Linked DNA regions of Homo sapiens: all the other regions are linked to region 1. The links come from fine-mapping of genetic effects on gene expression. A gene starts in region 1. Each other region holds a variant in brackets. All regions are shown on one strand. Distances are between the middles of the regions.

The links. PIP is the estimated chance that this variant, and not a neighbour inherited with it, causes the effect. A credible set is the group of variants that fine-mapping cannot tell apart.
Region 2: its variant is the best candidate, but not a certain one, in a credible set for the expression of PALM2AKAP2 in fibroblasts (GTEx, PIP 0.82).
Region 3: its variant is the best candidate, but not a certain one, in a credible set for the expression of PALM2AKAP2 in whole blood (INTERVAL, PIP 0.57).
Region 4: its variant is the best candidate, but not a certain one, in a credible set for the expression of PALM2AKAP2 in whole blood (INTERVAL, PIP 0.88).
Region 5: its variant is the best candidate, but not a certain one, in a credible set for the expression of PALM2AKAP2 in whole blood (INTERVAL, PIP 0.66).
Region 6: its variant is the best candidate, but not a certain one, in a credible set for the expression of PALM2AKAP2 in whole blood (INTERVAL, PIP 0.51).

The regions. Positions count from the first base shown.
Region 1 is chr9:109,777,239-109,782,344 of GRCh38, forward strand. PALM2AKAP2 (PALM2 and AKAP2 fusion) reads left to right here and starts at 2,960. Exons shown (of 11, transcript NM_007203.5): 1 at 2,960-3,295. The coding sequence starts at 3,251.
Region 2 is chr9:110,072,530-110,077,635 of GRCh38, forward strand. All of the region lies in intron 7 of PALM2AKAP2 (PALM2 and AKAP2 fusion), which reads left to right. Among named protein-coding and RNA genes, the nearest start is that of C9orf152, 130 kb to the right of the region's middle. The variant A/G (reference allele first, on the strand shown) is at 2,941.
Region 3 is chr9:109,920,125-109,925,230 of GRCh38, forward strand. It overlaps PALM2AKAP2 (PALM2 and AKAP2 fusion), which reads left to right. Exons shown (of 11, transcript NM_007203.5): 4 at 3,611-3,725; 5 at 4,937-4,958. Among named protein-coding and RNA genes, the nearest start is that of PALM2AKAP2, 140 kb to the left of the region's middle. The variant T/C (reference allele first, on the strand shown) is at 2,885.
Region 4 is chr9:110,056,056-110,061,161 of GRCh38, forward strand. The region is part of intron 7 of PALM2AKAP2 (PALM2 and AKAP2 fusion); the gene reads left to right. Among named protein-coding and RNA genes, the nearest start is that of C9orf152, 150 kb to the right of the region's middle. The variant C/T (reference allele first, on the strand shown) is at 2,923.
Region 5 is chr9:110,133,865-110,138,970 of GRCh38, forward strand. PALM2AKAP2 (PALM2 and AKAP2 fusion) reads left to right here. Exons shown (of 11, transcript NM_007203.5): 8 at 2,263-4,675. Among named protein-coding and RNA genes, the nearest start is that of C9orf152, 72 kb to the right of the region's middle. The variant A/G (reference allele first, on the strand shown) is at 2,183.
Region 6 is chr9:110,045,841-110,050,946 of GRCh38, forward strand. The region is part of intron 7 of PALM2AKAP2 (PALM2 and AKAP2 fusion); the gene reads left to right. Among named protein-coding and RNA genes, the nearest start is that of C9orf152, 160 kb to the right of the region's middle. RefSeq lists enhancers at 1,228-1,802, 2,376-2,949 and silencers at 2,655-3,094, 3,225-3,284, 3,375-3,514. The variant TCCCCCGGAGTCTCCTGGA/T (reference allele first, on the strand shown) is at 2,895.

The DNA.
Region 1 (5,106 bases):
ATCCATTTCTTCCTCCTTCCCTACTTCGTTATTCCTTCTTCCCAAGGCTAACTGGCTAATGTGATGCTCATCTGAATGTCCTCTTGACTAATTAGAGACTTTGACTAATATTCACCTTCCTTTTTGACTGTATCTTTGGCCTAATTTCCCTGTTGTCTAATTTGCTTTGACCCCCAAACATCCAAGTCTTGCCTGACCTAAAAACCCTTTCCACTAGACCCTGCTTCCCATGGGCTATGTTCCTGTTCTCCACCTTCATCTTTCACATCTGAAGAGCTGAAAGAAGCAGTTTGTACTCATGGTTGCTTCTCTGATCTCTCGCTCATCCCCATTTTTGTTTGTTTTATTTTCAACATTCACTTGGTAGCAGTCATTCCTCACCTCTTGTAAGTGCTTCCAAGCTCATCTTCTGGACACAAGTCACTCATGGCTTACTGACAGCCCTCCAATGGTCTCTTCTTCATCTGCATCCCCCATGACCTTTCAGAAGCATATGACCCTGTTGAAAACCTCTTTCCTTCTTTGTGGCTTTTGGTGCAAATCCCTTTGAATTTTTCCTTCTACTTCTCGGATGATACTTTATCAGTCTTCTTTGCTGGGCTCTCTCCTCTTCTTGCTCTGTTTTCTCATCCTGGCTGTTCTCATTTCTTTAGCTGTAACCGCAAAGTAGATGACACTTGGATGTGTGTCCCCAACCCCGATTCTTCTATTCAGAGTTCAGATATTTCCAACTGATCACTTCCAAAGGGTGCCCAGGCCCTTTTCCTTCTCCATCTCCCCATTCCATCACTCCTTTTAAAAATTTATTGCGGTTAAAAATACAAAACTTAAAATTTACCATTTCAACCACTTTTAAGCATATGGTTTGATGACAGTAAGTACATTCACACTGTTGTGCTCAATCATACCTTTTAAATATCTGTATAGCTGGGAGTAGAAGGACCATTTCTGGTTCAATTGTTTATTCCTGGGGCCTGCTTCTATCTCCATATCATTGGCCAAGCCTGGTGCTTAATGGTTAAGAGCATGGGCTCTGGTGAGTGTGATCTGAGTTTAAATCCCAGCTCTATAACTGTAGCTGAGTCTTTCAACCTCTCTGGTCTCATTTTCCTCATCTTAGTATTCTCTACAATCACTCTGCTGAAGCAATAACAGCTTTGTTTATTTGTGAGCAAACCCCTTTAAATAACTTGTCCTGCTGGGGCTTGTGCTGGAAATGAAGAAAAAAGGATGCATTTGAAGAAAAGGATGGGCTTAGCCAGAAAGTAGAAGTTTCTGATATATTGGAGTGGGATGTAGAATCTGGCACTGGCTTGGATTTATTAAACAATCAGCTCCACCTACACTTGTTATGAAAAAGATGGGAAAACAATCCATCAGTAAACGATTTTGGTGAGTGCTTCCATCTTTGGTCAGAGGAGTAATTGTTCATCAGTGACAGGTGAACCTCTGTGAAAATTGAAAGGGCAATTTAGTTGAAATGGAAGCATTTATTCAGGAAACAGGTGATCTGGGAAAATTTGATGTGCATTTTTTTTTTTTTTTTTGAGACAGAGTTTCACTCTTGTTGCCCAGGCTGGAGTGCAATGATGTGATCTCGGCTCACTGCAACCTCTGCCTCCCAGGTTCCAGTGATTCTCCTGCCTCGGCTTCCCAAGTAGCTGGGATTACAGGTGCCTGCCACCACGCCCGGCTAATTTTTTGTATTTTTAGTAGAGAAGGGGTTTCACCATGTTGGCCAGGCTGGTCTCGAACTCCTGACCTTAGGTGATCCACCCGCCTTGGCCTCCCAAAGTGCTGGGATTACAGGTGTGAGCCACCGCATCTGGCCTGATGTGTATATCTTTTAACATGCCTTTAAATCCTATGGCTCTAAAGAGGCCATATTAGTTATTTCAGTGTTTATTTCATTTGATGAAGAAACGTTTGCATATGAATGTTGGGAATTCTAGCAGGTCCTGCCTCAATGTGAAGAGGCATTTTTTTTTGCTTTTGGCATTGATCTCCTTTTGGACTGGGCCTGATCCACTTCTTACATCCAGTCCAGGACCTGTCACAAAAGACTCACATTAGTACCACATGGTATCCTGTTTTAGTAAAGAATAGGTGAAATATTTTAGTGAGTAGATCCTACTTTTCCTTTCAGATGCAATGAACAGAAGACCCTGAAAGGATTTCAATCCAGAATGTCACAGGATAATAAGAGCAGATGTCTGTGATGCCCTTTACAAAGCACCTTTACATACTGTCTCTCATTCGTCTCTAATGACACCTATGTGATCCTCCATTTTTTCAGATGAGGAAACTGAGGTTCAGAGTGATTAAGCGAGTTGCCTGAGATTTCACAGCTAACACATTGTGAAATCTAGTCTAGCACCCAGGACTAAAAACTCTCGGCTTCTTTTAAGGCCACATATCGCCTCACCAGAAGGGTGGCCTCTCTGGAGATATACCCTACCCTCGGCCGACTTGATATTGAGAACTTGGTCATCTTAAGCATGTGGGCCACTTGGGCAAGGCAGCCCTTCCCAAATTGTAAATGTCCCCACGTGGAGCTCAAGCGTCTGGCTTGAGCCAGAAGGTGCCCTGAACACTCGGTGGCCCCAGCCCCCACGTAACAGCACGTGCTCGGGTCCCACATTCGGTCAGACGCCCCTCTCCACTGGCATCTGCCCGGTGGAGGCGCCACTGCGCTCTGCCTCCGCCCCAGCAAGCGCGTGTCCACGCGGGCGCGCCACGCCAGCCGTGCGCCCCAGCGGCTCGCCGTGCGCCCGCGCCCCAGGTGCCCACTGGCTCGCGCGCCCTCCGTCTGCGCCTTGGAGACCCGCGGCGGCGATCGCTCGGAGCCGCCTTGGACCGCGGCCTCGGGTCCATCACACTCCAGGGGCGGAGCGAGGCACCGAGACGTCAGGGCGGAGAACTAGCGCCGGGCTAGCGCGCCCTCCCGGCGGCTGCCGGCGTCCCACGTCCTCGGCTGGCGCGGCCGGCGGCGGCGGCGACCGGGAGATGCAGTGAGCGGCGGCGCTGGGGCGCAGCCAGGCGGCCGGGAGGGCGGGGGCCAGAGGCTGAGCCCGGGCGAGCCCGCCGTGCGCACAGCTCTGCCCGCCGCCCCTGGAGCGGATCCCCAGCCGTCCCTGGGCGTTCTCCCGGGTTCTAGCAAAGCCCCCCGGGGTGCCCATCAGTTTCCTTGGGTGACTACAGCGTGTGTTTTTTCTTTCCTCTTTCCCCTGCCTGTGTGCCCTTCTCCAGGATGGCAGAGGCGGAATTGCACAAGGAAAGGCTGCAAGCCATAGCAGTAAGTCCACTTTCATTTTATTTTCTTGCTCTATTGTCTGGGGTGGAAGGGGGCCCCCGAGGGTTTCGGGGCAAGCGGCATGCCAGCACAGTAGCCGCAGGTCATATGTTCCAGGGGCTAAAACTCTGTCAGGGCTCAGCTAGGCTGCCTTTTCTTTTCTATGTCTATAGATGGAGACCCCCAAGGGCGCGCTTTGGACTGAGGATTTGAATGTGGAAGATTGGCTTAAAAAAAGATGCTTGCTGCTGGGCTTTGGGGAAGGACTAAACAGAGGCTTGGGGTGGGGGGACGACTCCAGGAATATTATGACCGAATGCTCAGGCATACGTTGGCTTCATAGCCTGGAGAACCAAGAGAAGGGTGACCTGAACGGTGGCTGCCATCCTCTCTGCGGAAGCTGTCCTCCTGTTAAGTGGAAAACCAGGAGTCAGCGACTCAGCCAGCCACGCGGTAGAACCTCCTCCCAGAAACCGGGAATGTTAGTTTTCCCTTCTCTGTTTGATATTGACAAGGGCACTGGCACAAGCCACCACCCTGGAGGTCTGGGGACTTCATACAACTGGGTCCTGGTTATAATATTCCATGAGAGCCTCCTTCTTATGGTGTGGAGTATCTGAAAACCTATTTTCAGCCTACAAAGGAGTAGTCAGTTTTGGCAAAGTTCGTAGGCACTTTCAGAAAAGTGTACCCATGTGCATCTTGGGTTTAAAAAAGAACTCTCTGAGACTGCCTAGATTTGAGCAATCTTAACACAGTGTTGCCAATGATCCACAGATGTGGTATTTTTACTGGAGCCACCACAGCTGGATTATATATTTCCTTCGAGGATGAGGGAATGATTACTGCTGCCGTATGAAATAGTAACAATTAAAAAAGAAGGTCCGTTAACATATTGGCATAAAAGAATCTCCAGACATTCTTCCACCTAAATACATTTGTGTTTTTCAGTTCGGAAGTTCTCTGGAAACACATATAAATTTGTTGGAGAAATAGTGTGTAATGTTTTGGAACCAAAGTATATTAAAGCGTTTTCCAAAACCTTTTTGGACAGATTCTTCATTGGGAAAATGCACACAGACCCTTCCTTTTTTAGAAGCATTTGACATGGTCTCCAAGGCTCTGAGACCCTCTTTCTCAAACGCCTCAAATCTGAAATGTCTTGGAGACTTCACCACTGAAGTGAGAGAGATGTTTGCTGGCAATATTGAAATGCCATGGTTTGCCTATTAGGTAATCTTTGAACGTGGTGCTCTGAACTCAGAAAGGTTGTTTTTTTCTTCTTTCTCTTTCCCCCTGTGCATGTGTATTTTGATGGTTTGTGAAGTTATTTGTGGTTTCTAAAGTTGGTGGCAAGGCAGCATGGCCAGTGTGTCATGAACTTGATAAGAATGGTGATATTGAGTTAATGGTGCCATGTAGCTGGTGGGTGTTTTGTGTGAACTGGATAATAGGCTGCTTTAACTGTTGATGCAGTGGCTGTTCCCATTGGCTGCTGCTGAAGGCTTCCAACAGTTGTCACATTTTCTGCCTTTGCACAACCAGCTTTACTGGATGCCTGAGGAACAGCTGAACTCCATGAAAGGACTTGCTTTCCAAACATGGAGCCAGTAGCTGCTAACACTGGGGTACCCTTTTCCAAGTGCGGTTGAGTAATCCCAGCAGAGGCCAAGTCGATTTTCCAAGAAAGATCTAGGCAAATCTTTGGGAATTCTCTTGAGCATATAAGAATACACACAAATACTCACTTGTGCCTCTTCAGTTATTGAAGAATTGAGTTTGTCCTGTGTATCTGGGGAGCTGTTGATTATTCT
Region 2 (5,106 bases), 300 kb after region 1:
GAGAATTGTGCTAAGGATTTGTTGCAAGGATGGCGGTAGATGAAGAAGCCATTGGTTTGAGTGAGATTTGGAGTTAGGCGTAGTAATCCTTGGGTGCTGGAGTAGTGTCTTGTTTGAGGGAGCAGTGTTCATAGGGCATAAATGCTATAGAGGTGTCTGAACCACCTGGAGCCACAATCTGTCCTCATGATCTTGCCCTTCAAATGCAGCCGCATGCCCACATAACCCACCTTGGGGAGTAGCCAATACTCAGGCTACTCTGTGGGCTGGCATTCTTGGTCTCCTGACTTCTGCCCCAGCTCTACCTTGGTTGATACCCCAAATGCCCCTTTTCCTCTGGCCTACCTAGCCTGCTTTCTCCCCTTCTTCCTTGGTTAACTTTGCACGTGACCATTTTGATTCTCTAAAGAGAATCATTCAATTAGGAAATGGAAATCTGAGGCAATGAGAGAGAGGAGACATGCATCACTATTTATTTTTAGAAACTTCACACAACACCAAGCCCAAACTGTTAAGCATTGCCTTAGGAGAGGTTTCTACCATTGTGCTTGCCAGGTATAAGAAAAGAAAATTACAATTGATTCTGTAATTTCTTTTGTAATAATCATCATAGATTCCAAAACACAGAATGAGTCTTTAGTGCGAAGCCCTGAAGCCTCTGTCTGCAAGTCCATTTTAATGACAGTTTTTGTTCTGAGCAAGAATGCGTCATTGCTGGTCTTGTGTTTTCAGACAAACACAAAGCTTTTAGGAAATAAGAAGCTTAAGTAAAAAGACTACAGGTTGTTCTCTCCTGGGAGTTCCTGGACACCCTCTCAACTGGGACACTTGAAGTGAGCCTCATGACCTGAGCTGAGAATTGCCATGGCTGAAACAGCTTTTATAGGGTGTTTTACATGGACACTTGACACTCTTTGGATCACATTGTGTGTGATCCAGACTCAAGCCAGGGTTAGCCTAGCTTGTTGTTTTATCTCAGTTAAAAGCCTTTTGTTAAGAGAACAAACAAGAAAGTTCAGATAGGTCAAGAAAGCCAGCTCTGAGGATATATCTAGAGGGCAAGTCATATTTATTTTTCAAAGTTTCCCCAGGAATTAAAGGTTGCACATCTAAATGTCACCACTTCTGTGACTTTTGCAGATAAACATTAGATTTACCTTTGGCAAACTGCAGTGTCTACATTATGGGATTTCCCTCCCCAGAGTCTTTTCTCTGGGGAAGTTCTGAAAAATTGTTTCAGGGATACTATAGTTCTTAAATATAACTAACAAACATATTATGAAATGCTGTTAGTTTTTTTCTGGAGGCTGAATATTGATTGCTACTTAGTATACCTTTTTTAATGATTATATTGTCCCACCAGGATATTTACACAGCTTCATGTGTCTTCCCACAAAATACACATGAATTGCAAAGGGAATATAGTAACTTGGCAGTAGAGAAACTTGGCAGATACCACCCTAATCAAATAATCAAATCTAACACCATTAGTAATTGGACAAATTGGCAGTGTGCACCATTTGATGAGATGCACAGAGGAAAACACAGCATCGCTTCTGTGATATTCCTGCACAAATGCATGAGTTAGATCTAATCATGAGGAAATATCAGGTAACCTCAAATTGCGGGATGTTCAACAAAATAACTTGTCTATAATCTTTAGAAGTCCCAAATTAGCTGGGCATGATAGCTCACACCTATAATCCTAGCTACTTGGGAAGCTGAAGCGGGAGGATCCCTTGAGGCCAGGAGTTTGAGGCCAGTCTAGGCAATATGGTGAGAGCCCATCTCAAATAAATAAGTAAGTAAAAGTCATGAAAGACAAGGAAAGACTAAGAAAGTACCCCAAATTGAAGGAGACTAGAGACATGAGACATGGGAGCCTAGATTGGATCATTTTATTAGTAAGAACATCATTGGGACCAAGATTGAAATTTGCATGAGGTCTATGGTTTACATGTAGAATTCCATCAATGTTAATTACAAGATTTTGAGGCTGGACTGTGGTTAGGTGGAAAAAGTCCTTGTTTTTCAAAAATGTACCTTGAAGTATTAGGAATAACGAGGCATTATGTCTGCAAAAAGACTCCAATAGTTCACAAAAAAATTATAAACACACACACGCACATACACATACCATGTAGCATTCTAATTTTTAGAACCAGAAATGAGCTTTTAAAAAGTCACCATAGGCTGGGTGTGGTGGTTCACGCCCGTAATCCCAGCACATTGGGAGGCTGAGGCAGGTGGATCACCTGAGGTCAAGAGTTCGAGACCAGCCTGGCCAACATGGTGAAACCCCGTCTCTACTAGAAATACAAAAACTAGCTGGGTGTGGTGGCGTGTGCCTGTAATCCCAGCTACTTGGGAGGCTGAGACAGGAGAATCTCTTGAACCCAGGAGGCAGATGTTGCAGTGAGCCAAGATTGTGCCACTGCACTCCAGCCTGAGCGACAGAGTGAGACTCCATCTCAAGAAAAAAAAGAAAAAGAAAAAGAAAAAAAAAAGTCACTGTAAGAGATGAATTAGAAGAATGTGTCTTGAATGCGGGCACAATTTATTTTTGTTGTCAATTGACAATCTTGAAAAAATTCTGGCCGAATGTCGGTGTGCCAGCTGTTTCATGCACCAGACCTGTAGTTCACCCCTACTCTTTTACCTGTAGTTCATCCCTACTCTTCTAAGGCTTGAATGGAAAATAATTTCTAATTTGTTGTAAAATTTACCAATTTGGTATTGCTGCTGTAAACAGGATTTTATCTAGGGTTTAGATGCCTTATCTTCAAATTCCACTATCAAGCTAGTACATAAAATTGTTTGAAAACTGAATCAGATGTTTATGTAATTCATAAAAACATATAATTTCCCTCTAATATTTCATTTTTCCTAATTATAAAAATAATGCATGCTTATTATAGAAATGTAGACATAAAAAACTAT[A/G]AAAAGAAGAAAAGAAAACTCAATCCAAATCTTACCACTCAGAAATGACGTGCCACTGGTAACATTTAGACTTATTTCCTCCTAATATGTATATTTTAAACTGCCCTCATTCTCTTTTTTTCTTTCTTTCTTTTTTTTTAACCTCTATAGTCGCTCCTGTAAAAGCTGCCCCTATGCTTGTAACATTATTCTACAATGGACTTTTGGATCCTAATGTTTTTACTCACTTTAGCATAAGCATTTTCCCATGTAGCAAAATTTCAGATATTTTACCTTTTTATTTTAAAATAATTTTAAACTTAGAAAAGAGTTGCAAGAGTAGTACAAAGAATTTTTGTTTTCTCTTCACTAATTGTTAACATTTCTCATATTTGACATGTTATATAATTTATATATGTCTATATTATATACAGATGCATAATTTTTAATATTTTTTTCTGAACCTTCTAAAAATAAGTTGCAGATATCATGCCCCTTTATATTACTTTATATAGTCTCAAAAGTGTTAAAAAAATTCAGGAAATTTGACATTGATACAATACTATTACCTAATATAAACTTGGTTTTTCAAAATTTGCCAGTTTTTGCAAAGTGACCTCTAGCATTTTTTTACCCCAACACCAGGATCCAATCCTGGATCACACTTTGTATTTTGATATTGTCTCTTTATCACCCTCTAATCTGATAAAGCTCATCAGTCCTTTTTCTTTGTCTTTCATGACATTGACATTTGTAAAGAATATTTTTCCTTCCATGTGAATTAGTCTGGTTTCTACACGTGGTCCTTAATAGCTATAAAATATTCCACCGAATTTTACCTAGATAAATGCTTTATGTTGGTGATTTGATGGTTTCTAGTGTTTATCTTCATAAATAAGGCTGCAGTGAACATCCTTGTATTTATGTTTTATAAACATCCCTGGTTATTTTCTCTCTGATAGAATCCTGGAAATAAAATACTGGGTAAACTAGCATAGGTATATAGGCTCCTGAGGATATATAGGTATATCATATATATTCTACATATATATATATATATATAGGTATATATACCTCCAAAAGGATGCTTTTCAAAAGGATGAAACTGGCAAGAATAAAATCTCACTAGTTGCCAAATGAAACTTCATTTTTGAAACACAGGAGTATAAAATAAAAACTTACAGAATATATCCTATGTTATTATTTTTCAGTTATCTGTAATATTTTGGTCAGATGTGCTTTATTAAGTAAAAATATAGGGTCCCAAATCATGCACACATGATGTTTAGATGCATATGGAAGACCAGCTAGACAAGGCCACCTCCGAGTTTTGTGTGTTGAGCCACTTTTTATGGGTTACTTATTCATTTGAAATTGATCCTGGCATCTGTCAAGGTAACATTACAGTATCACTGCTTGGGGCTCCCTTTCACTTGCCTGTATGGATAGAGCTTTAATGTTTATTTCGTGGGCAATTCATAACCTGTAGCACATGAAGGAGGCTGTCACGCAATGTATACCACCCCTGTGGTAGGCCCAGGACCGGCGTTTGTCTCAAACAATTCCAGTAGGCCTTTTATTCAGTGAAGTGGATAGATTTGGTGGATACCACTCAGTGAGTCAGAGTTTTGGAATCAATGTTCTCCATAGCTCATAGCATAAGCTCTGGAGCCTGACAATCCTGGGTGTGATTCTCAGCTTAACTACTTGCTGTGTGACAACAAGCAAATCCCTTAACCTCTCTGAGCCTTGGTTCCTTTATCTGTAAAAGGAAGACTGTAGTCGTACTCCTCTAATAGGGCGATACCCTATTAGATGTGGATGAAATACAATAACAAATAGGAAGCCTTTAGCATGTTACTTGGCACATTGCAAGTACACATTCAGTGATAGCTTTCATAATTACTATAATAGTACATTCATTTCGAGGTTGTACATTGACAGTGAGCAAAACACTTTAACATCTTGTGACGTGGGCAAGTTCTCCCATTTGACAGATGAGAAACCTTAGACAGAAAGCGGGTTATATGAACTAACAAAGCCATGTGTCAGGTAAACGGTGAGGCTGGGCATTAATCTCACGTCTCTGACTCATGGGTCAGCGGGTCAGGGCTCTCTCTTCAGGATATCCAGTGACTGTTCCATAACTCGTTACCTGGAAGTCCAATGCTGTTTGGGCAAATTTTG
Region 3 (5,106 bases), 140 kb after region 1:
AAGAGGACAAGCTCAACTGGGCAAGCACTTTTCAAGCCTCTGCTTGTGTCTTATCTGCTCACATCCTATTGGCTAAAGCAGGTCACATGGCTGCGGCCAGTGCCAAGGGACTGGGAAGTGTAACCCATCTACCATAAGCCTAGAGCAAATCACATGGTCAAGATTGACATCAGTGGCTTGGGGAAGCATGTACTCTTCCCATGGAAGTAAGGGAGGAAGGAAGGGAATATTTTTGAGAATAATGTAATCTTTTTTTTTTTTTTTTGAGATGGAGTCACACTCTGTTGCCCAGGCTGAAGTGCAGTGGTGCAATCTGGGCTCGCTGCAGCCTTGCAGCCTCTGTCTCCTGGGTTCAAGCGGTTCTCCTGCCTCAGCCTCTAGAGTAGTTGGGATTACAGGTGTGCACCACCATGCCCAGCTAATTTTTGTATTTTTAGTAGAGACGGGCTTTCACCATGTTGATCAGGCCAGTCCCAAACTCCTAACCTCAGGTATACGCCTGCCTCGGCCTCCCAAAGTGCTGAGATTACAGGCATGAGTCATCGCAACCGGCCCAAGAATAATATAATCTACTGCACACCCTAAATATCTGCTAAAGTACTCTGTACTTTGAGATTTAAATCAAATCTGCTCAGGCCAGGTGTGGTGGCTCATGCCTGTAATCACACCTCAAATAAATAAATAAATAAATAAATAAAACCTGCTCAGAGCCCACCTGGTTGGTAGTATCATCCAGTCTACACAGGGAACCTCTAGTCCAGAGCTCCTCTACTCATTGAATTAATTCAGTTTCTGGATAATGTGACTGTCTCGTGTGTTGTTCCTATTTCACACTCATGTCTCTTTACTTACTCCCCCCAAAATAATTTACACAGATGTGTGTAGAAGATTTTGCTGAACATCTGGACCAGCAAAGAAGTTTTACATCTTTATGTTCGTATCTCTAGATTGGCCAGCCCCCTCTCCATAAATTCTCTTTGCGTCTCGCCCACACACAGCCTCTCAAGTTAAAGCTTGCTGAAGAATTCACTCTTGTCTCCAAAATTCTGAAAGTCTTATCTTGGCTGGGCCACACCTTTGCGCAACTTAGCTCAGCTTTTTAAATTCATTCAATGTAGGTGTATTGAGCATTTGTGCCCTCTGTCTGAGGAATTTATAATCTAGTAGGGGAAATTAATAATGTATGTTACTATTTGGGGCCAGAAAATTCTTTGCTGTAGGGTGCCATCCGGTGCACTGTGGGATGTTTACCAGCATCCCTGGCCTCTACCCACTATGTGCCAGTAACACCAGTCCCACCCCCTTGAGCTTTGGACAACCAAAATATCTCTAGACATTGCTGAATATCCCCTGAGGGACAAGATCACCTCAGTTGAGAGCCACTGCTCTAATATATGGTAGACTTGATAAGACTTCTGATAAAACAAAATAATGTGCTAAGAAATGTTCAGAGGGAAGCGATGTTATTTCCTGGCAGTGAAATCTGTGAACACCTCATGACAGGTGGCATCTGAGCTGAGACTTCAAGAATGGTTGGGAGTTTGAGTTGAGTTTCCTAGAGGAGGAAAAGACATGGGGTACATGTGGGCAAATAAGAGTGGCTCTATTTGACTAATGCATGAAGTGAAATAGGCATGTTGTTAGAGTGGAGCTGATAGGTACTGGGAGGCTAGATACCATGGGGACTTATAAGCTGTAGGACTTCTACTTTTACCCTGAGTGAAATGACAAATATTTCAGAGCTGTGTTCATTTGGAGGAGGTTAATTTGGATATAGGGCTTGCCTTCATAACCCAAAGTAATTGCTGCAAAGATTATCCCTCCAGAGGTCACTTTTCTGACACCCAGGAAGGAAACAGAAAGGCCATCTGAGGGGCACAGTATGTCGCTAAATAAATTCATGCCTGGATCTTGGTGTTCCTTACCTTTCAGAAAACCCCACTCTGAACTCCTTATTTTAGGTCTAAGTCTAATGGCCAGTTCCCGAGAGCAGATTAAAAGATGGAAAAAGAGGGCCAGGCACGGTGGCTCACGCCTGTAGTCTCAGCACTTTGGGAGCCTGAGGCAGGAGGATTGCTTAAGCCCAGGAGTTCAAGACCCACGCAGGCAACATAGTAAGACCTCACCTCTACAAAAAAAAATTAAAAATTAGCTGGGCATGGTGGTGTGTGCCTTTAGTCCCAGCTCCTTGGGAAGCTGAGGTGGGAGGATTGCTTGAGCCCAAGAGGTAGAGGCTGCAGTGAGCTATGATCGTACCACTACACTCCAGCCTGGGTGACAGAGTGAGACTCTATCTCAAAAAAAAAAAAAAAAAAAAAAAAAAAAAAAAAAAAGATGGAAAAGGAGGAAGGCAAGGGAGGGGACTTATATAGGCAGACACAGACTCAGCAGCAAAGCTTCCAGCACAACAGAGGGGAAAGAGACCAAAAGAAAAAATGAATGAATGAGTGATTGAATGAATGAACCAATGAATAAATTCAGATCAAATAATTCAAGAGGCACAGCAATCTAGAGTTTTAGCAAGAGAACATTTATCCCTTCATTCTTCCTGAAGACATTGCTGCATATCAGTGCCATCCTACTCTGCCAATATATGTAATGTTTAACAAGGTGGGGGATGTGGAGAACACTTTAGATCCCATGTGGTAAGAGTTGCTCAATGGTTAGGAACAGGGTCTAGAGTCAGAGCACCTGGCTTGAATCCTTGCTTCAAGGCTCTGTGGCACTAAAGCCTGCTTTACTAGGTTACTTCACCTTGCCAAGCCCTACTGATCTCATCGGTAAAATGGGGATTCCCTACTCACAGGGTCATTGGGAAGTTTGGATAAAATAATCCACATGAATTCTTAGCTCAGTTCCTGGCACAGAATAAGTGCTCAGTAAA[T/C]ACTGGTGGTAATTATTATCATTTCACTGAAAGAATATGGCTGTTGAGACTTTCCCCAAATCATAGCTGCAGCTGCTATTCTGGAATATTTCCAGAGTCTCCTGGCAGTGCTGAAATTTCCCTTTTATAAAATACATAGGATGGCTGTGAAAATTGAGGAAAGTTCCAAAAGGCAGGGGCAGTTGCATCTGTCTTCTTCATTTCCCTTCTTTTTGGCAGTAGAATCCAGACCACAGAGGGAGAGGACACCAGGCTCCCAAGGGTACTGGCCACCAGCTATTTCTTGGCAACATACTTCCTTTGAGCAAGAATGGCCCTTTACTTTTTGACCAACCTGAGAGAGCACTTACTCTGAGCCGGTCAGGAGAATATGAAGCTATTTTCCTTCTGATGTTATGTCCTATGCTATGTAAATATAATCTCCCTCCAAATAAGAAAGGTGCACATGCATGGTGTTGGCAGGGAAACATCGAAACATATTGCATAGTGGTGGCTGTGAACCAGTGGAGGCAGTGCTGTGTTGATTTCCCTTGACCAATGTCTGCCCAGTGGCAGAGCTGGAAACACAAGATGCTGTGTAATGTAAAACCTTGGCCTGGCTCCTCAGCGTAATGTAAAACAAAGGCTGCCAGGAAGGTACAAATCGCCCAACAGGAAGGAGCTGCTCTCTTGCCCGTGGATGGCAGGACAATAAAGTAACTTGTCCTTTGTTTGTGTGTTTTCCAGGCTGGAGCAAGAAATACAAACGCTAGAAAGTGAAGAGTCCCAGATATCTGCCAAAGAGCAAATCATCCTAGAGAAACTGAAGGAAACAGAAAAATCCTTCAAGGACTTTCAGAAGGTGAAGAAAACCAAAACGATTTCTCAAAGTTATTTCCATGGGGAAGTAGGGCCTAGCAAAATGGTGCTAACTGGGAAACAGGCCAGTGGGCATTGATGAGAAATCTGAGCCACGAACTCTATGAAATGAGGGGCAGATGTGTGAGGACCAGGGGCCATCCTGAAGCTAAGCATGACATATCTTTGGGTGTGGGACCATCTGGCCTGCTGCAAGGCATAGGGAAGAGTCATTAGATTACCCCATCTGCCTGCTCTCCGGATCCCTGATATGCCTTGTGCCTGAAAAGCCTTCTCTTATTGGACTCTAGAATTCTAAAACCAATTCTGATGAAGCAGAATAAACATGCTCTTTGTGGCTTTAATTATAGTTTGCTTTTTGAGTCTTTCATTATAAAAAGGCCAGAAGCAACACCTTATGAAGTGGACAAGAATTCCAAATACAAAGAGTGTAAATACATGACATTTTACTGTATATAGAAACAGATGGTGCCTGTAATCCCAGCACTTTGGGAGGCCGGGGCGGGTGGATCACGAGGTCAGGAGATCGAGACCATCCTGGCTAACGTGGTGAAACCCTGTCTGTACTAAAAAATACAAAAAAATTAGCCAGGTGCGGTGGCAGGCGCCTGTAATCCCAGCTACTGAGGAGGCTGAGGCAGAAGAATGGCATAAACCTGGGAGGCGGAGCTTGCAGTGAGCTGAGATTACGCCACTGCACTCCAGCCTGGGCGACACAGCAAGACTGCGTCTCAAAAAAACAAAAACAAAAAACAAAGACAAACAAACAAAAAAACAGGTGGTGCCGTGTATCAAAGAGTAGAGTCCGTAAAACCAGTAGGCTCTGAACAAACATCTCAGGACCTCCCTCCATTTTATAACTGTTTCTGCTGTACCTATGAGTGACAGAAAAGCAATCTAATGAAATCAATTTAGGATGGGATTTTCTGATATCATTCTCCAGCATGACCAAGGATATTTGCTAGATCATTGAAATAAATCTCTATTGGGAGAAATTTAGTATAAATTGGGAATTATAATTTTGGAATTCTAAATAAATTGTCCAGAAGAAAAGAGATCGTTGCGTTTCCCCAGCACAGTCAAATTCTGGGCTGGGGCATGGGAGAAAGATGGGTTAAGTCTTTAAAGATGGGAAAAGATGGGATTGTACCCCCACATGTAGAGTAACGCTCTGCCTTGTTTTTGTTCCTACAGGGTTTCTCCAGTACGGATGGAGGTAAGTGCTCTCTGCCCCGACTGTAGATGAATGTTTTAATCCTGGTCAGCTTAGGGGGTTTCATTAACAGGGGCTTAAGGAAGAGGTACTGTGTTGATTTGTAAAGGCATCAGAAGAAGTAGCAGCGCTGGTTGCAGGCCACTGAGGA
Region 4 (5,106 bases), 280 kb after region 1:
GTAGGGGGCAGGGAGGGACCCTCATTTGCCCCTCTTCCCGCCCAACAGTTGCCTGACTTCAGCCTTAATGCATAGCTCATCCAGAGTCCTCCTGAGCTCCCACCTGGTGAGGTGTGTGTAGAAGGTGTGAGGAAGGCCAAACCACATTTTCCTGGCAGTGGTTAACTGACCGTTTTCAGCCCGCCTCCCAGTGCAGCTGACTGCGTCAGCTTACATTACCGTGATGTCATTCCCATGGTGGGATAATATAGCATCTTACTTTGTCTGGAGTGGTGCCTCCCATAAGTTTTTTGATACCGCCTACAAATGGAGAAAGACATCATTGTTTAGCCATTTTTATTTGGGTGGGTTGGAGGAATGACTTTCCCAAAGGAATAAATCTTAGTTAATATTCCAGAAAATTCAAGTACTTTTCAACCCTAATTGAAAGGCACTCTGTGTGCGTGAATTAAAATCAAGGTGGAGTCCATGTGCCATGTGCTGTGTGATTCTAAAGCCATATTTTAGCTTGGCCTATTAGTATTTTGCATCAGAACATTTTATACTTGCAAAGGTTAGCAAGAATTTTCCTCAGACACATTACAGATGAGCAGAATTTATTCATTTTGGGGGAAAAAATGAACAGACTGTATTTGGAAACTTAGATCATATCCAAAGCACTTGATGATTCCTGTTTGGAATCATTTTTCCTTCAAAGAATAGTTCAGATCAGTGTTAAATGCAGGGCAGAGATGGACTCAAGAGTGGGAGGCATTGCTTTTGAATGGAATCACAATGTGTATATCATTTTAAGTATTATTTTTATGGTATGTTTCATTATCAAAACCATCTATAGCCTCCAAAGGATGACAGGTGTTATAGTGTGAGTGGCGTAGAGGGTGTTGAGATAGAGGAATGAAAAGAGAAGAGATCGTTCCCTTTCCACTCACCATTCATAGAGGAACTAAGTTTTACCTTCTAGGGAATTCCCTGTAATTCCCAGGGACGCCTTGTCCTTGCGGTTCCCAGGCAGGATGGTAGGAGGAGCTAAGTGGGAGGGAATTAATATTTCTTGAGTGTCGGCTGGTAAGTTGGTTGCTTTACCTCCACTTTTTTAGAGACAGGGTCTCTCCGTGTCACCCAGATGGAGTGCAGTGGTGTGATCATAGCTTACTGCAACCTTGAACTCCTACCTACACTATTTTACTTAATCTTTATAGTCACCAGCATTTTTCAAATGGAGATACTGAGACATTTGGAAGTCACATAACCATCCAGGGGTCCCACAGCTACATAATGTCAGGTCAGTTTTCCTACCCAGCTCCTTCTCTGTTTTTTTTTTTTTTGTTTTTTTGTTTTTTTTTTTGCAACAGAGACTCGCTCTGCCATGCTGGAGTGCAGTGGCGCCATCTCAGCTCACTGCAACCTCTGCCTCCCCGGTTCAAGCGATTTTCCTGCCTCAACTTCCTGAGTAGCTGTGTCTACAGGCGCGTGCCACCACGCCCGGCTAATTTCTTGTATTTTTAGTAGAGACGGGGTTTCACTGTGTTAGCCAGGGTGGTCTCCATCTCCTGACCTCATGATCCGCCTGCCTCGGCCTCCCAAAGTGCTGGGATTACAGGTGTGAGCCACCACGCCCAGCCCTCTCCTTTTCTTACTAAACCAGTGCTGTAGGGGCTTGCTACTCCAAGTGTGGTCTGGGGACCTGCAGCATTCCTGTCATCCAGGAGCGTGTTAAAACTAGAGTATCCTGAGCCCCATCCCAGACCTACTTAATCAGAATCTGCATTTTAGCAAAATCCCTAATGAGTCCTGAGCATGTTACTGTGTGAGGAAGCTCTGCTTAGAGGAGGAAAGTCTGACAATTACAACTATGCATCCTGGCCAAGACTCAGGACTTGAATCCATGGACTGGACCCGAAACATTGGTCTATCTCAGTGAGGGAGGAAGGGTGCTACTAGAATCTGATGGGTAGAGACCAGGGATGCAGCTAAACGCTCTATAACACACAGGACACCCCCTTCCACCAACAAAGAATTATCCTGCACAAAATATCAATGGTGCCAATGTTGAAAAACCCTGGTCTAATTGTCTAGATGTAGAATTCACATCCTGTAGATATGTTTCGTAGCCTCAGATGTATGCAAATCTCTAGGAAGTAGATCTTAAAGGAGTTGATACAAATTGCAGTGTGCTATGCAAATGGGAATATTTTTATTGGGACTTGAAAAGAGAAAAAGAGCTTAAACTGAAGCATGAAAGATTTCCATTAGAGTTTTGAGAGTGTCAGACTCTCAAACAATAATATCAGGGATGCAGTGGAAAAGTTTCTAAGCATGTACTGAGTACCCACCATTGAGGGTGCTACAAGGCAACATTCCCTCCCATTCCCAATCCTGCCTGGCAACAGTGCCTTCTGTTTCTTCATTTTATTCCTAAGACTTGCCCTGGCCTTTGTCCTACCTTTCCGTTCTCAAGCAGGATATGCTGGGTCAGTTGTGCCACCTGGAGGCTGGGGGAGGAACGCAAATAATGAATAATTGGTAAAGGGAACCAAAGCGCTGTTTCTACCATCTTTTCCTCCCTGCCTGCGTGGATCCACACCTCACTGTTTCTTACTCAACTCCTTCAATGCCACGACACTGTAGCCACTTCCACTGGTGGACACATATCCTCTCTCCCTCCTTCCTTCCCATTCTCTTTAGATCCTGGCCCAGAACATCTGAAAAGATCTGTCCTCCCTCCCCTGTCTCTCTCCCTTTTTTTCTTCTCTTTCTTCCTTTTCTGAGCTGAACAGCAACCTGTATCAATACTGGGAAGTAAAATGAGTATGCTTATTGTATACTGATGGAAAGTTTTTTGGTTTTTTTTTTTTTTTTTTTTGAGATGGAGTCTTACTCTGTTGCCCTGCTGGAGTGCAGTGGTGCAATCTCGGCTCACTG[C/T]AACCTCCGCCCCCTGGGTTCAAGCGATTCTGCTGCCTCAGCCTCCCTAGTAGCAGGGATTACAGGCATGTGCCACCACGCCCACGTAATTTTTGTATTTTGGGTAGAGACAGGGTTTCACCATGTTTGCCAGGCTGGTCTCAAACTCCTGACCTCAAGTGATCCGTCTGCCTCGGCCTCCCAAAGTGCTGGGATTACAGGTGTGAGCCACCGCGCCCAGCCGATGGAAAATGTTTTGAAGTGAAATTATATCCAATAAAGAGCTCCTGTCATTCATCCAGTTGTGAGAGTCCCTTTGAGAGTTGCCAGAAATGTCTGCTGTCTTGTTTTTACTCTTAAATTAACTTGCTCTTTCTCGAAGTACAGAATTCTAAAACAGAGTTGGTGTTTTTGTTGTTGTTCTATTATGTCCTCCTGCTTTCTTTAGTTGTTGGTACTAGAATAGTCATTTTCTACTACTTTTTCATGGACATTATCCTTGAAATAGGTTATTCTAGACAAGTTTTGGAACCCAAACTGGATTTAAGACCAAGGCATTCCAAGAAAAATAAAATCTTTTTGCAATTTCTATGCATCATCTTTTTATAACTTTCATTCTCCTTTGCAAAGGAAATGTGGGGCTGTGGATGTGAAAGGAGGTGGGGGCAGTGACCGGCCAGCTGCAGAACATTCAAGCCTGGCCTTTGGACTCAGAGACTAGGGCAGAAGAAGCCAGAGTGCTAGGCTTCTGGCCAGAGTGGAATGTGTCTTCCCAGGAGTGGGAAGCCTGTGTTTTTCCACCTTACCATCTGATCTGCTCCAGAGGGCTCTGCATTAGAAAAATAGGGAGCTATGGGGAATGACTAGGGGGTGGAGATCATGAGAGCAGTGTCTATGGAGGATTATCAGTTATGCTCAGAAAGGGAAGATTTGGCACCTGGTCATCGATTTTTAGTACAGTAATTGTCTTGAGAAAAGTATTTGAGAATCAATATTAGAAACAATTTTTAAAATATATCAGTCTTAAAGGTACATAAATGAGAGGAAGAAAATCAGAGATCAGGGTGTCTGCAAGATGGTCTACTAGGCTTTTTATTATTGTAATTTGTGATTGAATGCCCTCTGTGGGGCCAGGTATTTTGTTTTTGTTTTTGTTTTTGTTTTTGTTTTTGTTTTAGATGAGTCTTGCTGTGTTGCCCAGGCTGGAATGCAATGGTGCGATTTCGGCTCACTGCAACCTCCGCCTCCTGTGTTTAAGCGATTCTGTTGGCTTGGCCTCCCAAGTAGCTGAGACAACAGGTGCGCACCACAACATCCGGCAAATTTTTGTATTTCTAATATTCACCATGTTGGCCAGGCTGGTCTCGAACTCCTGACCTCAAGTGATCTGCCCACCTTGGCCTCCCAAAGTGCTGGGATGGGCCAGGTAATTTTATTTTAGCCTGACAACTACTCTTTGGGGTCCTTGGATAGTTTTTAATTCCATTTTGAAGATGGAAAAGTGAGATGAATTGGTCAAGGTCAGGCCCACAGGCCCTATTTTTTTCCCCTTGCATTGTTACTGTGCTGGGTGACAACTGGTGCTGAGACAGCTGCTGTCTCCATCACTCTCATGAGGAAAGAGGGTCAACAGGTCCAGGAGTTTTTGTTTGTTTGTTTGTTTTAGATGGAATCTCACTCTGTTGCCCAGGCTGGAGTGCAGTGGCGCGATCTCGGCTCACTGCAACCTCCGCCTCCTGGGTTCAAGCCATTCTCCTGCCTCAGCCTCCCGAGTAGCTGAGACTACAGGTACATGCCACCAGGGCTAGCTAATTTTTGTATTTTTGGTAGAGACGGGATTTCGCCATGTTGGCCAGGATGGTCTCCATCTACTGACCTTGTGATCCACCCGCCTCAGCCTCCCAAAGTGCTGGGATTACAGCAGGAGTTTTTACTCTAAATATTAAGTTAAGCTTACAAGTTAAGCTACTTGTAAGCTGTCTGAAGGTCTATTTCCCTGACTTTGCAGTTCCTTAATTTTGAAGGCAATCTCTGCCTGTATGTCTTCTTCCTTAGAGACCTTTGTCCCGTTAAGGTAACCTCCTCTCCCAGCCCACACCTTCTAAAGTACCTTGTCACGTCTCATGAACTCCACAAGGGTCCTCTTGGGCATGATAATGTGTGTCACCTCTTGCAAGATCCACTAAACCCTCTTTGCCACAAGTT
Region 5 (5,106 bases), 360 kb after region 1:
GGCCTAGGTTTACTTGAAATTGAATGGCAGCCAGTAAGTTTCAGCATTCAAATTTTGTGTAATGCTTAATGATATATGAGTAGAAGTTACTGACAATGTCTCATCCAACAAAAAGTTTAGTTAATAGTTTTAAAAGGGCTGGCCATGCAGGGTGGCTCATGCCTGTAATCCCAGCACTCTGGGAGGCCAAGGCTGGACTGCTTGAGTCCAGGAGTTTGAGACCAGCCTGGGCAACATAGCGAGACTCTATCTCTACAAAAAATTTTAAAAATTAGCCAGGCATGGTAATGCCCACCTGTAGTCCTAAGGGAGACTGAGGCAGGAGGATCCCATGAGCTCAGGAGTTCAAGGTTGCAGTGAGCTATGATCACATCACTGTGCTCCAGCCTGGGCAACAGAGCAAGAGCCTGTCTCTTAAAAAAAAAAAGGAAGGTGGTGGCAAAAACTACTATTTAATGATGGTCAAAAATAAAAAATAAAGATATTAGCAATTATAAATATTAATTGTGTTAAGTATCACTCCTTAACAAAGACCAGACCTAGACTGGAAGAAAATCAGAGAATGGAAGATGTTGACAAAAGAGGAACACTCATTATTTGTGCCTGTTAATGGAGAAGACATATACATTACTTGAATAATTTAAGTCTGAAAGGAAATGTGGAAAGTGAAGAGTGAAGGAAACCCCCCAGTTCATGGATAACTCAGAGAGTTTTTCAACATTCTGACAGCAGTGTAGAGCACTTACGATGAACTCCAGTGTTTTCTTAGGTCTCAAGAACAAATCCATAATTATCCACTTTTTTGGGAAGGATTTTGAAATTAATTTCCTGAGAATCGTCCTAAGGTGGTGTTTTAATATTCTAAGCATTTAAAATTGTTGAAACCTTAGATAAATGAAAATTACACTCTCTTGCAATTTTGCATTGTCCTATGTCAATAATACCAGGCACATTATAAACTTGAGACAGGGAAACAAAGCCAACCTAGGTGTTGTAAGGTCCTTGATGGTAACTCAAATTAAGTTTATACTTTACTGGAATTCTTTGAGATAAGCCAGAGTCCTTTGATATGAAAAAGAAAATCATCTTATAATTTGAAAATTAATGTTTCTAATGCCAAATAACAAAATTACATAGGCTAGATAACTGGTAGAAAAATAAGATGGATGGGTTGGGTGTGGTGGCTCATGTCTGTAATCCCAGCACTTCGGGAGGCTGAGGCGGGCAGATTACTTGAGTACAGGAGTTCAAGACCAGCCTGGGAGACATGGAGGAACTCTGTCTCTACAAAAAAAAAAAAATATATAAATATATATATATATATAAATCAGCCAGGGGTGATGGCACACACCGGTAGTCCCAGGAGGTAGAGGTTGCAATGAGCCGAGATGGCACACTGCACTCCAGCCTGGGCCACAGAGCAAAATCCCATCTCAAAAAAAAAAAAAAAAAAAAAAAAAGCCCTCAAGACAAAAAACCTCCTTCCTTAAAAAAAAAAAAAAAAGAAAAATATGATGGGTTTTAAAACATTAAGAAGATAGGGTTTTCTTATTGAATCACAAACTGAAGATATCACATATAAAGCAGTTAAAAAACTGGAGGAGAGGTACCATTGGCCATTAGTTTTTCAAAGCAGTGCTGACTTCTTAACTAAAGAGTATTATTTTGATGCAATCCCAGAAAACAGAGCTGTGCAGTCAGTGGCTTTGGTGATGGTGTTCATAAGGCACATGGTCAATTACAGCCATGGCAGTGAGGCACTGTAGCCTGTGTGCTGCCATTAAAGGGATCTACTGTTTTCCAGTATTTTATTCTGCAAAGATTTTCCAAAAAGTTTCTTGTCTCCAGAATAACTGCATTACATCTGGCAGAGAGTCATATGTTTTAAAGATCTGTTCATACAAAAGGACCTTCTTTTTGCAATCCTATTAATAGTCGTATTGCACAGCCTGCAATCATTTGCCGCAAAATACTTGGGAAGACTCTGGTACAATAATGATGTAATCTCTTCCACCTTAGTAGATAAAATTTAAAAATGGCACTAGCATGTAAACAAAATGGAATCCATAAATTAGAGAGGATTGGGCACCTGTTACTACAAGAAAATGAACATTTAAGGGATTATTAGAAAATATCTATTCAAAAGAATTTGTCACTGTGGTTTCCATTTTCCTTCCTCTTA[A/G]TTATGAGTCAGTTTGTCAGCATTCACATCCATAAGAGATGCAGTATTTAACCCTGACTTTTGTTTACTCTTTATTCCAGAAGCCTCCCCAGCTTTCTGAGGATGATATCTGGCTAAAAAGCGAGGGAGACAACTATAGTGCCACCCTCCTGGAGCCTGCTGCCAGCTCTCTTTCCCCAGATCACAAAAACATGGAAATTGAGGTGTCTGTTGCAGAATGTAAAAGTGTTCCTGGAATCACCTCTACCCCACATCCCATGGACCATCCCTCCGCTTTCTATTCACCCCCGCATAATGGCCTCCTTACTGATCACCACGAATCCCTGGATAATGATGTTGCCAGAGAGATCCGCTATCTAGATGAGGTGCTAGAGGCCAACTGCTGTGATTCTGCTGTGGATGGAACGTACAATGGAACATCCTCCCCAGAGCCTGGTGCAGTGGTTCTGGTGGGCGGCCTAAGCCCCCCTGTCCACGAGGCGACCCAGCCAGAACCCACTGAAAGAACAGCTAGCCGGCAGGCACCTCCTCACATCGAGCTCAGTAATAGCAGCCCTGACCCCATGGCAGAGGCAGAAAGAACAAATGGCCATTCCCCCAGCCAGCCTAGAGATGCGCTGGGGGACAGCCTGCAGGTGCCTGTCAGCCCCAGCTCCACAACCAGCTCACGGTGTTCTTCCCGAGATGGAGAGTTCACTCTCACCACACTGAAAAAGGAGGCCAAGTTTGAGCTGCGTGCCTTCCATGAGGACAAGAAGCCCTCCAAGCTCTTTGAGGATGACGAGCATGAGAAAGAACAATACTGCATTAGAAAAGTGAGGCCTTCAGAGGAGATGCTGGAGCTGGAAAAGGAGAGGAGAGAGCTCATCCGCAGCCAGGCCGTCAAGAAGAATCCTGGCATTGCAGCAAAATGGTGGAATCCCCCGCAGGAAAAAACCATCGAGGAGCAGCTGGACGAGGAACATCTGGAGTCGCACAAAAAGTACAAGGAGCGCAAAGAGAGAAGGGCACAGCAGGAACAGTTGCTGCTGCAGAAGCAGTTACAGCAGCAGCAGCAGCAGCCCCCATCGCAGCTCTGCACAGCCCCTGCCTCTTCTCATGAACGCGCAAGCATGATTGACAAAGCAAAGGAGGACATTGTCACAGAGCAGATAGATTTCTCTGCTGCTCGCAAACAATTTCAGCTGATGGAGAATTCCAGGCAAGCGGTGGCCAAGGGCCAGAGTACACCCAGGCTGTTCTCCATCAAGCCTTTCTACAGGCCTCTGGGGTCAGTCAACTCAGACAAGCCACTGACTAATCCGAGACCACCTTCTGTCGGGGGACCTCCAGAAGACAGTGGTGCCTCAGCCGCCAAGGGACAGAAATCCCCCGGTGCCCTGGAGACCCCATCGGCAGCAGGAAGCCAGGGCAACACAGCCTCTCAGGGGAAGGAAGGGCCCTACAGCGAGCCTTCTAAACGTGGGCCCTTATCTAAACTGTGGGCTGAGGATGGAGAATTTACGAGCGCCCGGGCTGTCCTCACTGTGGTCAAGGATGATGACCATGGGATTTTGGATCAGTTCTCAAGATCTGTCAATGTCTCCTTGACCCAAGAGGAGCTTGACTCTGGTCTGGACGAATTGTCGGTGAGGTCTCAGGATACCACAGTCCTGGAGACCCTATCCAATGATTTCAGCATGGACAACATCAGTGACAGCGGGGCATCCAATGAGACAACCAATGCCCTCCAGGAAAATTCACTGGCTGATTTTTCTCTGCCCCAGACACCACAAACTGACAACCCCTCAGAGGGCCGAGGAGAAGGCGTCTCCAAGTCATTTAGTGATCATGGTTTCTATTCCCCTTCCTCCACGCTGGGGGACTCTCCGTTGGTTGATGACCCCTTGGAGTATCAGGCTGGCCTCCTGGTGCAGAATGCCATTCAACAAGCCATAGCCGAGCAGGTGGATAAAGCTGTGTCCAAAACCAGCAGGGATGGAGCAGAGCAACAGGGACCTGAAGCGACTGTAGAGGAAGCTGAAGCTGCGGCTTTCGGCTCAGAAAAGCCTCAGAGCATGTTTGAGCCACCTCAGGTGTCTTCTCCTGTTCAAGAGAAAAGGGATGTATTACCAAAGATTCTGCCTGCTGAAGACAGGGCGCTCAGGGAAAGGGGGCCCCCCCAGCCACTGCCAGCTGTGCAGCCCAGTGGCCCGATTAACATGGAGGAGACCAGGCCCGAAGGAAGCTATTTCAGCAAGTACTCGGAGGCAGCTGAGCTGAGAAGCACAGCCTCCCTCCTGGCCACTCAAGAATCTGACGTGATGGTTGGGCCTTTCAAGCTGAGGTCCAGGAAACAGCGGACTTTGTCCATGATTGAGGAAGAGATCCGAGCAGCTCAGGAAAGGGAAGAGGAGCTGAAGAGGCAGAGACAAGTCTTGCAGAGTACGCAGAGCCCCAGGACAAAGAATGCCCCATCACTGCCCTCCAGAACATGCTACAAAACTGCTCCAGGTAAGTGAGGTGCCTCACATGAGAGACAGATGCCACAGCAGTCTGTTGTTGTTGATTCCAGCTCATGGGTTTCTATGTGGAGCCTCCTCTGTGTGTGTCTGGAATAAGTGTTGGGGGGACACTGGCATGAGAATTCCAGCATACAGGGACATGCAACAAAAGTGTCAAGAGTGTCCTCTAGAAGAACCCTGAGCTTGCATGGAGTTTGCCACTTTCCAGAGGATGCAATAGCTCCTTCTTTGTTGTTCTGCTTTGGCCTTGGTTTATTATAAAGAATTGTTCTCTTTTACTTGAAAGCCTGCCTCTTGTCTGAAGGAGAGGCTGTTTGTGGCATAGAACCAGAGTGGACCCATGTGTGGACTATGTTGGAATCAGTAGCTTGACCCTCAGTATCTAGTTAAACCCATCTGATTTGGGAGTTGTCCTCTACT
Region 6 (5,106 bases), 270 kb after region 1:
TACAGGCATGAGCTACCACACCCTGCCGGAATCTGCCTTTTTAACAAGCACTATCTGTGGTCTTTAGTACTGGCTTCGAAAAATTCTGGGGCAAGATATCTCAACCTCAGCATTACTGACATTTAGGGCTCAATAATTCTTTGTTGGTGGGGCGCTGTCCTGTAGATGCCAGTAGCAACCCCCCTAATCGTGACAATAAGAAATGTCTCTAGACATTGCCAAAATGTCCCCTGGGGAGTTCAATCACCCTCAATTGGGAACCACTGGCCTAGGAGAAAATAAATGAGAAAATGTTAATTAAAAACAGTGTTTACTTTTGCATGCAGCCATTCATACTCTTGCATGGATTTCATTGAACAAATTAAACAACTATTTCTGAGCATCTGGTATGTACCAAGCCTTTTATATTAAAAATGTTTAATCATGGCTACCTCTTTAATAATTTGGAAGGTGGAAGAAAATGTTCTTATAAATTAATATCTATTAAGCATATATTTTTCCTAAATTAATATTCCTAATAGTTTTCTGAAGAATATTCTAGAACTTTAAAATTAATATTAACAAAGCATTGACGTTGTTTTAGTAAAGAAGCAATTCAGAATAAAGTTGGTATGATTGCTTTACTTTTTTTTTTTTTTTTTTTTTGAGACGGAGTTTCGCTCTTGTTGCCCAGGCTGGAGTGCAATGGCACGATCTCGGCTCACTGCAACCTCTGCCTCCCACGTTCAAACAATTCTCCTGTCTCACCCTCCTGAGTAGCTGGGATTGAAGGCATGCGCCACCACGCTTGGCTAATTTTGTATTTTTAGTAGAGACGAGGTTTCTCTATGTTGGTCAGGCTGGTCTCAAACTCCCGACCTCAGATGATCCGCCCACCTCGGCCTCCCAAAGTGCTGGGATTACAGGCGTGAGCCACTTCACCCGGCCTTGCTTTACTGTTTCTAATAATGAAACTAATTTTGTTTGTAAATTTTACACTTATTCTAATTTAGGAAAATATGAGAAGGGAGTGATGAAGTACCTGCCATGATATTGTTTATAACATCTCACATCTGATGTAATTCTAAAATTCTTCCTTAGAGAGTCTATGGTCCATATAAATAAATAAGTGATATCCAAGCACACTCATTTTAATGTGAGTTTTTCACATGATATTAAAATGTTAAAAATAGATCAGTATGTAGGGCATCCAAGCATTTAATTCCTTAAATCGGAGACATGAGGAGAAAAAAATGAAAAGGAAGAAAGAAAAGAAGGAAAAGGAAGGAAGGAAGAAAAAGTTGAGTCAAGGCTGAAGCTCTGGCATCTCTAACCACTGGTCAGTAAATTCTATTGAAATTCAATAGTATAAGAGACAAACAGGCAAAAAGGATCGTGAAACCATTTCCAAATACCAAGATAAAGGAGGCTATTGACATTCAGGAACCCTGAGAACAGCTGATGTCCCATTGTAGACTTCATCCTCTTCCTTGGGTGAAAGTGTGAATAGCGCTCAAGGCAGGGAAGAAGTCTTTTCTCTGAAGGTGCTATTTATGGTGCCCTTGGCCTGGATGGGCTTTCTGGGTAGTTCCCAAGGGTATCATTTCTTTGTATTGGAAATCAGGGACCTTTGTGGGTTAGGAAAGTAGAATCAGGCCATGGCTATTGTCTTTCCCTGCTGTGTTTCACATGTAAAATTGACTCCCAGAAGAGCATCCCAGGGCCTTGTCAAGGAGTGGGGAAAATAGCAGACTGCCCTAGGGTGGAAACCTAACTGAGAGTGCAAGGGCGACTTGCAAAGCTGGGGAGAGAGAATTACTGGGAAAATCGTGCCTAGGGCAAAGCTGAATTCAAGAAATCTGACTTTTGTGATCTTCCTCTGCTGAGAATGAATGCGGCCACCTACAGCAGAGTAAGACCACAGCTTGCTTTTGAAAGTGTTGCTCTCTAGGTGGGGTGTTTGTTTGTGTGTGCCTGTCCTCTCTCAGGATTTCTAGACGGTTCATTTTCAAAGGGTCATTAACATTATTTAAATATTCATGGTGGAGGAGGGGATGAGAGACTGAAATTTCAGACATCTCAAGAGTGAGGGATGGCTGGCCACCCGCCTAATACAGCCCCAGTCTGCGGATCAGCTGCCTCCTTCCCCTCCGCTGGCTTTGTTAGCACACGCGCTCTGACACCGGGCCACCGGCTGCCACTACACGGAGGGCAGCAGGAAGGCTCTGGCGAGCCAGTGAGCTGGAAGCATCTCTGTCCACACCTCAGCCTCTGAACCCCATCGGGGGAGTCCTCAAACACGCGGAGACACCATTACTGCCACAAAGACGCACTTCGCAACCAGTTCCGGGAGTCGCTCTGACCCTGAGGACAGTCGTGGTGCTAGGTAAGGGACGAGGGGCTGTTTCCCCGCCTGAGTGGGAACTCAGCGGCTCCTGGCATTTGAGCGCACACAGGCACTCACACACTTCCACATACGCTCATGCGCACATATGTGTACACCAACACACACGTCCACATGCACACACAGCGACACGCCACCCCGCTCCAAAGCCCCGTGCGCTAACAAGTATCCATATACCCAGACACAGCGCTCCCCTGAGTTAGGAAACACTCAGCTTTGCCCGCCCCATCCATCCCTCCGTCTTTCCCTCTCTCCAGTCTCTGCATTCATTCATTTCTTCGTTTGTGCATCGATTCCGCCGAAGCCACTGAGAGGAGAAGGTGTGGGTAGATGGGGAGGGGAGGGGAGGGAGGGGCGGTCCGTGGGCGCTGGGCTACTGGAGGGGAAGCGAGGAGGCGGGGAAGGGGCGGGCCCCAGGAGCAGGCGGGCGGGGCTCCCCGCCCTCCAGCGCGCCCGGAGGCTACCACTCCCTGCAGATGCGCTGGCCCCAGCCCGGGGCTGCCGCTCGCCT[TCCCCCGGAGTCTCCTGGA/T]CCCCCGGAGTCTCCTGGACCCCCGGAGCGGGAGGCAGCGGCCGCGCGGCGCTGGACTGGAGCAGAACCCCAGGACTGCGCCCCCGGGAGCGGGCGCCCAGAGGTGGGTGTCCAAGCTGGGGAGGGGAGGGGCTGGAGTGTCCTCGAGTGTGAGGAAGGGGTGGCCGAGGAAGGGGTTGCCGAGGAAGGGCTGGAAATCTGGGAGTCCTCGGAAGCACCGCGGGCTTTTAAAGGGCTTTTTGTGGTCCTTGTCGAGCGGAGCGTGTGCTGGGAGAGGGCCCGGGTGGAGGGGCTGTGGCCATGTGGATTTGAATTCCTAGGTTTGTGGGAGGGCCAAGCCTTTGGCTGCTTTGTTCAATGCTTATCATTTATATATGCTTTAAAAACTAAACGCAGGACTCCGCTTCTCCCTGTATACACACAGAGCTGGGCTGTGTGTCCTTTTCAGGAAAAGCAGTGAAATCAAATGTGGTCGTGGCCGCATCTCCTGCCCCGGGAGCACCGGGAGGTGCAGCCGTTCCTTCTAGCTCGCGAGGAAGGCGCGGGTCCTGCCTTTTGGGTGGCAGAGCCGGGGGCATTTTCGCAAGTCCTGAACTTTTCAGAGAGACTGAAGTCAGGGAGGGCCGGGCCCCGGCCCCGGTCCCGGCCCCAGCCAGAGTCTTTCGGGATAGGGTCCAGGGAGCTGAACTCAGGAGATGATGCAGGAGGAGCCAGCAGCCTCTTCTGCCCTGGGAGGGAGAACGCGGTCCGGGTCCGAGCTGAGCCAGAAGTTTGGCCTGAGGCTGGGACCTCAGCAGTTAGAATGTGGTATCTTATCCGAGATAAAGCCGGAGTTTGCGTCTCTGTGGGCCCTTCTTGGGGACACTCTGGGGTATGGGAAGAGCAGACCGTGGGGGAGAGCACTGGGCAAGCCGTACCTGTAATGTCCGTGGAGGCGACGCGCCTGCAAGAACCAGAGCAAGGAGACACTGGTGGCCCCAAGAAATCCCAGAGAAACGGAGTGGATAGGAGGGGAGTAAAACGGAGCCCGGGAGAGCCGGAAGCCCGCAGCAGGGAGCTGTGGCGCTGGTGGCCGGGTGAGGACTGAAGGCAAAGGGCGAGGCGGCGTGCAGCCGGGCTGCCGAGCTCTCCAACGCGGATGCCAGGCGCTCGCCAGCCTGAGGGATCCCTCCTGACCCACAAAGAGGGCGTCTGGGAGGTGACTCGTTTAGAGAGATGGTGGATTCCCTTTCCAGACCCAGGAAAGCCCGTTTCCCGTGTGGGGTAGCATGGGTTTGGCTCTGATAGGCTGCGTGGTCAGATCAGACTTTGACATATCACTACCCTTCCCCGTAGCAGTTTTAAATGCAGCACAGGTGATTTGGGAAGACTTCCTAAATGTATAATATTTCTTTTTGAAAAGAAACTTCACCTACTCATACGTCTATACACCTCTCTCTGTATTGCATCTTGGAATCTGTGAACAAGCCCATGTCTCCCGGGAAGCGCTCTTCTATCCCAACTCCCGTTTCACAGGCTCCTGGAGACTGCATGAATACAAACTCCTCTCACCATTGGGATCCCAGGGAATTTGCTTCCTTGTCTTTTGTTCTGATTAGAGTTCATTTAAGCATCACACTTTTCTTTCTGGAAATGTTCTTAATTTAAATTTAACTAAGCTTCCCTTTCTTCCAGTCTGGCAGCTTCCCCAACATTCATGAATACAATTTCATAATAATATGTCTAGAAATGAGGAGTATCCAGCAAGGAGTTTTACTCTGTTTCTTTAAACATAAAGACTTGGCCTAAAGAGTGTTTTAAGCAATGCTCCGCTGCCGGTTGTCTCCTCCCCAGTTTTGACCCTTGGCCCTTTCTCTGTTTTTCTTTTCTTTTCTTTTTTTTTCTTTTCTTTTCTTTCGAAGTTTTGCTCTTGTTGCCCAGGCTGGAGTGCAATGGCATGATCTTGGCTCACTACAACCTCTACCTCATGGGTTCAAGCAATTCTCCTGCATCAGCCTCCCGAATACCTGGGATTACAGGCACCCACCACCACACCCGGCTAATTTTTATATTTTTAGTAGAGATGGGGTTTTGCCATGTTGGCCAGGCTGGTCTTGAACTCCTGACCTTAGGTGATTCACCTGCCTCGGCCTCCCAAAGTGCTGGGATTACAGGCATGAGCCACCACACCCGGCCTGGCCCTTTCCTTAAAGGG